Regions from separate parts of the Homo sapiens genome. Here all the other regions are linked to region 1. Evidence: fine-mapped expression QTL. A gene starts in region 1. Each other region holds a variant in brackets. All regions are shown on one strand. Distances are from middle to middle. Region 1 holds the start of PREP (prolyl endopeptidase). Region 2 overlaps PREP (prolyl endopeptidase). Region 3 overlaps PREP (prolyl endopeptidase).

Evidence for each region.
Region 2: its variant is fine-mapped to the expression of PREP in atrial appendage (GTEx, PIP above 0.99).
Region 3: its variant is fine-mapped to the expression of PREP in skeletal muscle (GTEx, PIP above 0.99).

Annotation. Positions count from the first base shown.
Region 1 is chr6:105,401,938-105,404,696 of GRCh38, reverse strand. It overlaps PREP (prolyl endopeptidase), which reads left to right and starts at 1,615. Exons shown (of 15, transcript NM_002726.5): 1 at 1,615-1,850. The coding sequence starts at 1,806. RefSeq lists a silencer at 1,338-1,907.
Region 2 is chr6:105,299,822-105,302,580 of GRCh38, reverse strand. The region is part of intron 10 of PREP (prolyl endopeptidase); the gene reads left to right. It also overlaps the pseudogene RPL35P3. Among named protein-coding and RNA genes, the nearest start is that of PREP-AS1, 22 kb to the right of the region's middle. The variant A/C (reference allele first, on the strand shown) is at 1,391.
Region 3 is chr6:105,363,184-105,365,942 of GRCh38, reverse strand. All of the region lies in intron 6 of PREP (prolyl endopeptidase), which reads left to right. Among named protein-coding and RNA genes, the nearest start is that of PREP, 39 kb to the left of the region's middle. The variant A/T (reference allele first, on the strand shown) is at 1,693.

The sequences.
Region 1 (2,759 bases):
GCCCTGTAGACTCTAGAGTATCTCTACTTATTTATGAGTAGGAAGGCCGTCAGAGTGGTTAAGAATGAGCATTGGTATTGGAGAGACCTAGGTTGGAATCCTGGCTCTACTTTTTCACTTTTTGTGAAGTCCTGGGCAAAAGTCAGCCCGTTTTCCTTAACTATAAAATAGGGACATTAGTTCTAGATAGTTTCCTGATACACTGAAAAAAACACTCCATAAGCATTAATATTATCATTAGGGGGTCTGCTGGGTCAAGTGCTCCTGGGTTGCTCTTTAAAAAATCCCTCACAGTGGCAGAAGGAGGAGACAATGCCTGCCAGTCCCTGCGTCAGGTGACAGCCAGGGAAGGCACGAGGTGGGAACTGGAATTGGGACTTCTGGGCTGTAGTGGGCTATGCCCCCGTGTTTGCACAAAGTTTGTTATCAATAGCGTGAGTTCTCCCAGAATTGAGGATTCTCAGATTGCCCCAGGAGGGGGTATCTGGGATCAGATGCAGAAAATGATTATGACACATCACTATGAACAGAAATGGTGAACTAAGGGTGAGGCATGGAATTGGGACCATATCACAAAAGAGACGGAGGACACAAGTTTATAATAGTTACCATATCCACTTAGATTCCGGAGGTGAAGGACTTTCTGGTCACACCTATTCTTTCTTCCAGGACTTTTTGGAAGCCAGGGATAGAAAACACACTGGGCACACACTATACCCCTGATGGCTGGGGCTATAAAGTCTCTTCTGGGTGGTCCAGGAAGCAAGACCAGAACACATACCGCTGCTGGCCCGAGGATGATGACATGTAACTATTAAATTTTCATGGGTTTGAGGTCAAGTATCTTGTCTATTATCTTTTCTTCCCATAAACAGTAGGTGCTCAATAAACAAGCATGACAGCAGGAGAGGAAATGAGGAAAAGGCAGGATAAATAAAATACCCCTGATGAGTTCCAGGCCTCTTAATCTTGGTTCTTTCTCAATCGGTAAATATCAAATAAGGGCTCAACCGTAGTCCTGCCAACACCTCCAAAGCATCTCCATAGTCCGGATGCTAAACCACCCAGTGTCCACCAGGGGTCCTGGGATGAAGGGAGACGTGTTTCTTTCACGGTCATCATGATCGATTACTTCTTCCCTTCAAGTCCAGAGTCGCAGGCAGTGGACATAAGGCCACCTCCAGCCCTCTGCTTCCAAGGCTGGGGAGAGGCAAGGTCTCCCTTCGCCGCCGTAACCAGCCCGGGAACAGGAAGGCTGGGGAAGGTGGGGGACTCCATCAGCAAGGAAACCCTGGGGCTTCACTCTCCTACAGGCGGTCCTGCGAGCGCGGCCAAAGAGAGGCAGGGCGCTAGGGAAGGCGCGGGGACCCGGCCTCGGTGGAAGGACTTGTCCCCGGCGCAGAGGACGGGCGGGCGGCCGGGCGTGGGCGAGCGCGTAGCCGGCGTGCTCCTCCGTGCGCCCGGGCGGCGCGGGCGCGGCCGGCGATCCTGCAGAGGGAGCTGTGCGCCGGCCTTAGCGCACGCTCGGTGCCGCCCGCTCCCTCTTGCCGCCGCCGCCGCCGCTGGGCCCGCCCGCCGGGGAGGGGCTCCCGGCCTCGCAGACAGCGGCTTCCTGCTTTCTGCACGTCCTCGCCGCCGCGCCGCCAGTCCGTTTGTGCTAGCTCTGGCCGTGAGCCGGCCGCCCGCTGCCGCCGGCCGCCCCGCAGCTGCCTGCGCCCCAGCCGCGCCTCGCGGCCAGCCCGGCTAGCTCAGGTCCGCTCCCGGAGCCCGCGCCCCTCCACGCTGCCCCCTGCCTGTCCCCGGCCATGCTGTCCCTTCAGTACCCCGACGTGTACCGCGACGAGACCGCCGTAAGTATCTCTGCCTCCGCCCAGAGGGCTCCCGGGCAAAGGTGCCCAGCCTGCCTGACCCGTGGCACCCGCAGCTCCTCTTCCTGTAGGCCTTCGACCCCCGCGTCCCTCCCCTCCCCCTCGGCCTTTGTTTGGGAGAATTGGGCCGGGGGCGCGGGGCTCCTCTGCAGCGCTGGGGTCCCGCGGGCGGTCACTCTGCTAGTGCTGGCGGCGGAGCCTGTGGGCAGCGCCGCCCGGCCGCTTCCTAGAATCAATGGGGTCAAGGGCAGACGCCCGGGTAGAATGGGTGTCTTCAGGGAGTGGGAAGACAGACGGTGTCACTGCTTTTTTGACTGGCGAAGCCTCTTGCTTAAATATGGTGGTAGGAGAAAGTGTCCGCTGGGGTGTGTGTGTGTGTTTGTGTGTGTGTGTGTGTGTGTGTGTGTGTGATGTCACATTTAAAAACGAAAACAAACTTTTAAAACTTACACTTTAAAGTCCTTAGAGTTGAAGCATATTCGTTCGATTTTAAAAGGTGTGTTGAGCGCCTACCCTGTCCCAGGTCGGATGAGGCGCACTGGGCCCTGGGGATGCCAGAGACCCGGACAGAAATGGGGAAGGCGGAGCAGTGACCCCATAGTGTGGCCGTGCTGATCCATGTTTTCTTAAACAAGAAAAGGAGTTGAGAGAGGGTGAGAGGAGGTCTTAGAAGGGAGAGGGGTTGACCTTTTTCAGAATGAGTAAGTTTTGTCTAGTGGCGGAGTTGACCACCATTTGCCTAAGCTGCAGATGAACTCAAGGTAACTGTTGAGATCCAGTAGGCGGAATTCTGGGCAGACACCTTTTTTGTGTAAACGTGAATTTGACGACTTAGGAACTGGATTGCATCCACATGTTGTGGCCGTGATTCTCTTACTAATAGCTACATTT
Region 2 (2,759 bases), 100 kb after region 1:
GACCTGCGGCCTGAGAAAACATGCGCCTGCGCCACTGGCCCAGCAAGCACGAGGAGAACCTGAAGACCAAGCAGCAGCCGCGGAAGGAGCGGCCGTACCCGCTGCAGAAGTACACAGTGAACGCCTGAACGTCACATTGTCAATAAAAGAGAGCTGGCCGAAGAGAACAAAAGAAAAGTGTGTATTTAATATGCAATTCTGTATTCATTCAACAAATATTTATTGAAGGCAAACAATGCAGAACTCATAACCCTCTGATGATGGACTCATCATGTGGTTCTCATGCAGGAGCAAAACACACAGCATATGCCTTCCATGTGCAGCATAAATCCCATTGCAGTGAGCCATGTTACAGGGCAGTTTCTGCCTGTACCAAAACAGACGCTGCTTTCTCTGGGCCTCCGCGTGTAGCAGGGTTCCTTCACTTTTAATGAAAATGTCTGATTGTGTGTCTTCATTAACTACAAAGAGATCAGACCAGTGGAACTGAAGATGGCTTTGATGTTCTACAATCAAGTCAGATTTATTCATCCTAGCCCTGTGTGTCTTTCTACCTCAAAACACCAGGTTACTGCTAAAATCCAAATAAACTCATCAAAGTGCCATAGCACGAGATCCAGCTGTGCCTCCTTCACTGCCCTTCTTTCCTTGTATTCAGAACTTCCACTTTCTATTTCGCTTTTGGCTTCACAGTTTGAGACTGGGAAAAGGCGTATTATTCCAAAAAACAGATGGCTGAGCCTTAGAGAGCTGGTGAATTTCTGCAGAGATGATCAGTATAGCACTTAGCACATTGTTGGTGCTCAAGAAATGTACTAAAAGTTAAAACAGATTTTAAATAGACTGACTTTGCTGTAATTGAGGTATCCTAAGGGAGCTTTTAAATCCCCAGTGTTACCAAAATGCCCAGCCATCCTTGGAAAAACTAACTAAAGCAGTCTGGAATAGACTTTCCTTCTGTATTTTCTGCCCAAAGATGACTCTTAAACTCCTCTCTACTCCCCAAAAGTTAAATGCCTGGAACATAGACAAGATGACAACCTTCTAATGCCAGGCTAGCATTTTTCACCTTAGTACAGCACAGAAACATGTAATGCCTCCCTCTAAGTCCTAGGAAGTTCTTCATATGCTCATGTTACAGGGTAACTGAAGCACGGAGTTTGCCCGCCTACTGTCCAGTTCTTTTGGTAATGGAATGTCTTGTTCCTCTGCATGCTGCCTGTGGACTCAGAGCAGTTCTGCTCCTTGTCAGATTTATTTGGCACACGTAGCACAGACCACACAAGTGGCCTCTGTCAACTCTGATAAAAAGGGGGAGCTCAACACCCTTTTATGAACATTCTCCTTTAAACCTGTCAGGCTCTAAAATTAGGCAGGAGTTGCTATCACC[A/C]GACATTCTTCTGTCTGAAGGGGCTGCCCTTTGCAGCCTACCTTCATCTTTCATAGATGAGCACATCTCATGACTGGCGATAATGGGAGTCCTGGCATTTGCCTCAGATAGCTCAGTATCTGAACTGCATCAAATGCATTACTGAAGATTGTTTTCAGGAACCTAACTGATTGCACATTCGTGCGTCTTAACACAATTGATTTTATTACTAAATGTACGCATCTCAAGGAGAATAATAATTTCAAGAGAGACAGTTGATCTTTGCACAACTAAGGTCATTGATTTGAAGGAACAGTAATGTTCCATTGATTTGTCATATTTACTTCTCTTTTTTCTTTAAAGGAAGATATTCTTTTTTTTTTGAAATCAGATTTACATGTTAAGGCAGCTAGATGTGTGTTTAGTGATTGCCCTCTTGTGCTAAAACATGCTTCCAGAGTTAAACTGCTTTATCATTGGTGATGCCTCTGGAAAGTTGTGCTTGACAACAGAGATGGGATTTCTGAAACTTTAGACTTATGTACTTTATATAAATGTACACCATTTCTTCAGTAGTTTTTTTTTTTTAACATAAAGCATTCAGCTCAAGGATCTGTGAGTTCTTATCTGTTAAACAATTATTCTTAGAATATGGTTTTAAATGTGCAAAATCAGAAGCTGCTTTAAATTTAATTGATTACTTAAAAAGTTGGGATAGCTTTATGATTTGCTCAAGCATTTTTTTATTTGTGAAATGAATTGTGTCTGTTAAGCCTTAAAAAAATACTATTGAAATGGAATTTTTTTGGTAGAATGGCCATGGCAAGATATAGTGGGATTTTTATTGTTTTAATAATCTGTCTTCAAGATGGTAACACTAATGACTGTGTGGAGAAGGATCATCTTTCTAAGCTGACTCATTTTGCTAAAATAGTAACAGCAGCCCCTCTTGTATCTGGAATATCGCTTTTGAAATGTTTGAGTGAGTCTCCTTTTTAAGAAAATAACAAAAACAGTCTGGGCGCGGTGGCTCACGCCTATAATCCCAGCACTTTGGGAGGTTGAGATGGGCAGATCACTGAAAGTCAAGAGATCGAGACCATCCTGGCCAACATGGTGAAACCCTATCTCTACTAAAAATACCAAAGTTACCCGGGTGTGGTGGTGCACACCTGTATTCTCAGCTACTCAGGAGGCTGAGGCAGGAGAATCGCTTGAACCTAGGAGGCAGAGGCTGCAGTGAGCTGAGATCATGCCACTTCACTCCAGCCTGGACAACAGAGTGAGATTCCGTCTCAAAAAAAAAAAAAAGCAGAGAAGCAAATAAGGGATAGCATCTCTGGCAGAATGATATTTGTCCCCAGGATTCCCTAGAGATAGGTGGTCATTG
Region 3 (2,759 bases), 39 kb after region 1:
AATAAAGGGATGCATCTCTACTGCACAGAAGTAATAAATGAAGTTGTTTAAAAAAAAAAAAAAGCTAAAGGAACAATATAAAGTGAGTCCTTTATATTTGATCTTTATTGGATCAGGGCCCTATTTAGTGAATTACGCAGAGGAAGTCTGTAAGAAAACTCGTGGGCTCCGTAAACAAGAAGTGGGCGTAGACTTCCCTCAAGCAGTGTTCCAGAACTTGGGTGGTCTTGTTGTGACTGGTGTCATCCCACCAGTTACCATGGCTGGTCAGGCAGGTCTGGCTGGCTAGGTAAGTGCTCCTTCCTTCCTCCTTTCCCAACCCAGCTGTATGTGATCTTCTGAGCAAAAGGACCATCTTGCTACATGGAGGAGTACTCTTGTCACTTAAACATGAACTCTAGAGTTCTGCTGCTGTGACGCCTCAGAAGCCTCAGGTCCAATCTGAATTGATGGTCCAGTTCCAAGTCTTCACTCAGAAAAATCTGGATCATGAAAAAAATCTTGAGGTGGGAATTTCTTGTGCCCTTCAAGAAGTGTGATAAAGCCAGGGGAGTCCAAGAAGCAGGTGCACTGTAGAACTAGCTGGGCCAGAAGCACCCATGGCTGGTGGACACATTAGCTCTCAGGCTATTCACTGGAAATGAAGCAATTTCTTAACAGCCTTTATTTAGTGATTTGCATCTTAGAGAAAAGCAATAAATGGAATCCCACTCTGTCACCCAGGGCGGAGTGCCGTGGCATGATTTCGGCTCGCTGCAACCTCCGCTTCCCAAGTTCAAGCAATTCTCTTGCCTCAGCCTCCCGAGTAGCTGGGATTACAGGCTCATGCCACCATGCCTGGCTAATTTTTGTATTTTTAGTAGAGACAGGATTTTACCATGTTGGCCAGGGTGGTCTCAAACTCCTGACCTCTGATCCGCCCATCTTGGTCTCCCAAAGTGCTAGGATTACAGGCGTGAGCCACTGTGCCCAGCTGTAGTCCTCTTTATAACCATGTACCAAAGGCATGTGCTGCAATTGTTGCTTTTATTTAATTGTTGCTTTTGTTATAAAAGTACTTGCTTTTAGTCCAGTCATAGAACCTAGTATTTAGATAACAGTTTTTACAGTGTCTGTGATGAGAGAGCCAGTGTTAGAGTGGGAGGACTGTACTGGAACAGAAATTTTTATTCTAGTTCGGTCTGTGGCCTTGGGCAAGTCACTTAATCTGTTCAAGGTCATTTCCTTTATTTCTTCCAGGGCTTTTTCAGCTCTGAAACTGGACGGAGGATTTATCACAGCATCTCTTAGCCTCCTGGGAGAGAACTTAGCTGCTGGGTGTGAGAGAAGCAGGACACAGGGCAGGATGCGGGCTTTGTGGGTGTGGGTGGAGGAACCCTGTGGGCAGAGACTGGATGTGCTTGTGGACGTGTGCAGATTTCTCTGGCTTGCTGTCGTCAACCTCCCCTTCGGCTGCCGCAGTCCAAGTTCACTGAGAACTTCTCTTTATATCCTAGATGCTGTCTCCTCGTGACTCATCTTCCTTCTTCACAGATACCTCCTCTGCCTTCCTGCATGGACAGGTCTGTCTTGCCTTGATCAGGCAGATCTCAGGAAGTTCCAATCAGGAAGCAGCTTTAGTTTCCCCACTGTTGCCCTCCGTCACGCTGTGACAGCGTGTCTTCCCGGGACGACTGCCTTCAACCTGGCAGA[A/T]CTCCTTGCTTTCTGGACACTTTTGGTTATTGGAACTGCTATTAAAGGTTCATTGCAGTCCAGAACAAAATATCACTCTCTCCAATTTACATGCTTTCGCCCTCTACCCAGCTCAAGTTTGCCAAGCCCCTCTCCTTGCCTATTCACCCTGTTAGTTTTCCCAGTAGCCACTCAGGGAGGAGGAGTAAGACAAGAGAAACTGGAGTTTTGCTTATTGGGAATTGTTTGTTGGTCTATCATTGTTGGCCTCTCTTGGCTGCTTGCAATGAGGATGTATGTCCAGGTTCCAGCTCTCCTTATGCCATCCTTTTTTCAGAGACATCCCCTCGATTTTAGGAAACTCTGTACTTTGCTGTTCCCTGATGTGGGTTATAAACTCTCTGGCTGCCCTTTTGCACCACCTGCCTGCCCCAAAGCTTTTGATCCCAGAAGCATTCCCTCGAGATTCAGACTTCTCTGCCTTTCCTTCCTCCACCCTTTTTCATCAGGGACCTTTCAAGATGTCTCAAGGCCAGCTGTCTTCCTGGTAGCTTCCTGGGTACCTCTTGCTCCAGGGGAAGGCATATCCATGGGTTACTCTGTTCTGGAGGTACAGGATGTGTTCACTGCCCTCCTCACTTTCAGCCAGGGACCTCGGGAAGCCTCCCACATTCAGTCCCTCCTGCACATGTCCAAAATGCTGGGCTCAGGAACAAGAGCTCCCTTGTGCCCCTGGGGTGTAACATGAAACAGCTGCCATTGGGCTTTGATGGGCAGAGGTGCCAGTTATTTAATATAGACTGTGAGGCTTTACTTGAAGGACAGTTTCATGGCAGGAGAGAAATTGTCAGGTTCTATTGGACCAAAAAAACCCAAAAACCCACAAAGCTCTGTTTTAAAGTGAATTGTGAGCATCTGGGGAGAAAAAAAATCCTAAAGAAATCAAACACTTTGTGGCACTGTTCCCAGCAGAGGGTGCTCTAGAATGAAGATTGTGAAAATGCATCATCCCTTTAGAAAGGATTAAGGAAAAAATGCCCAGCTTCTTTGTGATTATCTCCCTAAATCCTATATTGAGAACCTAATTC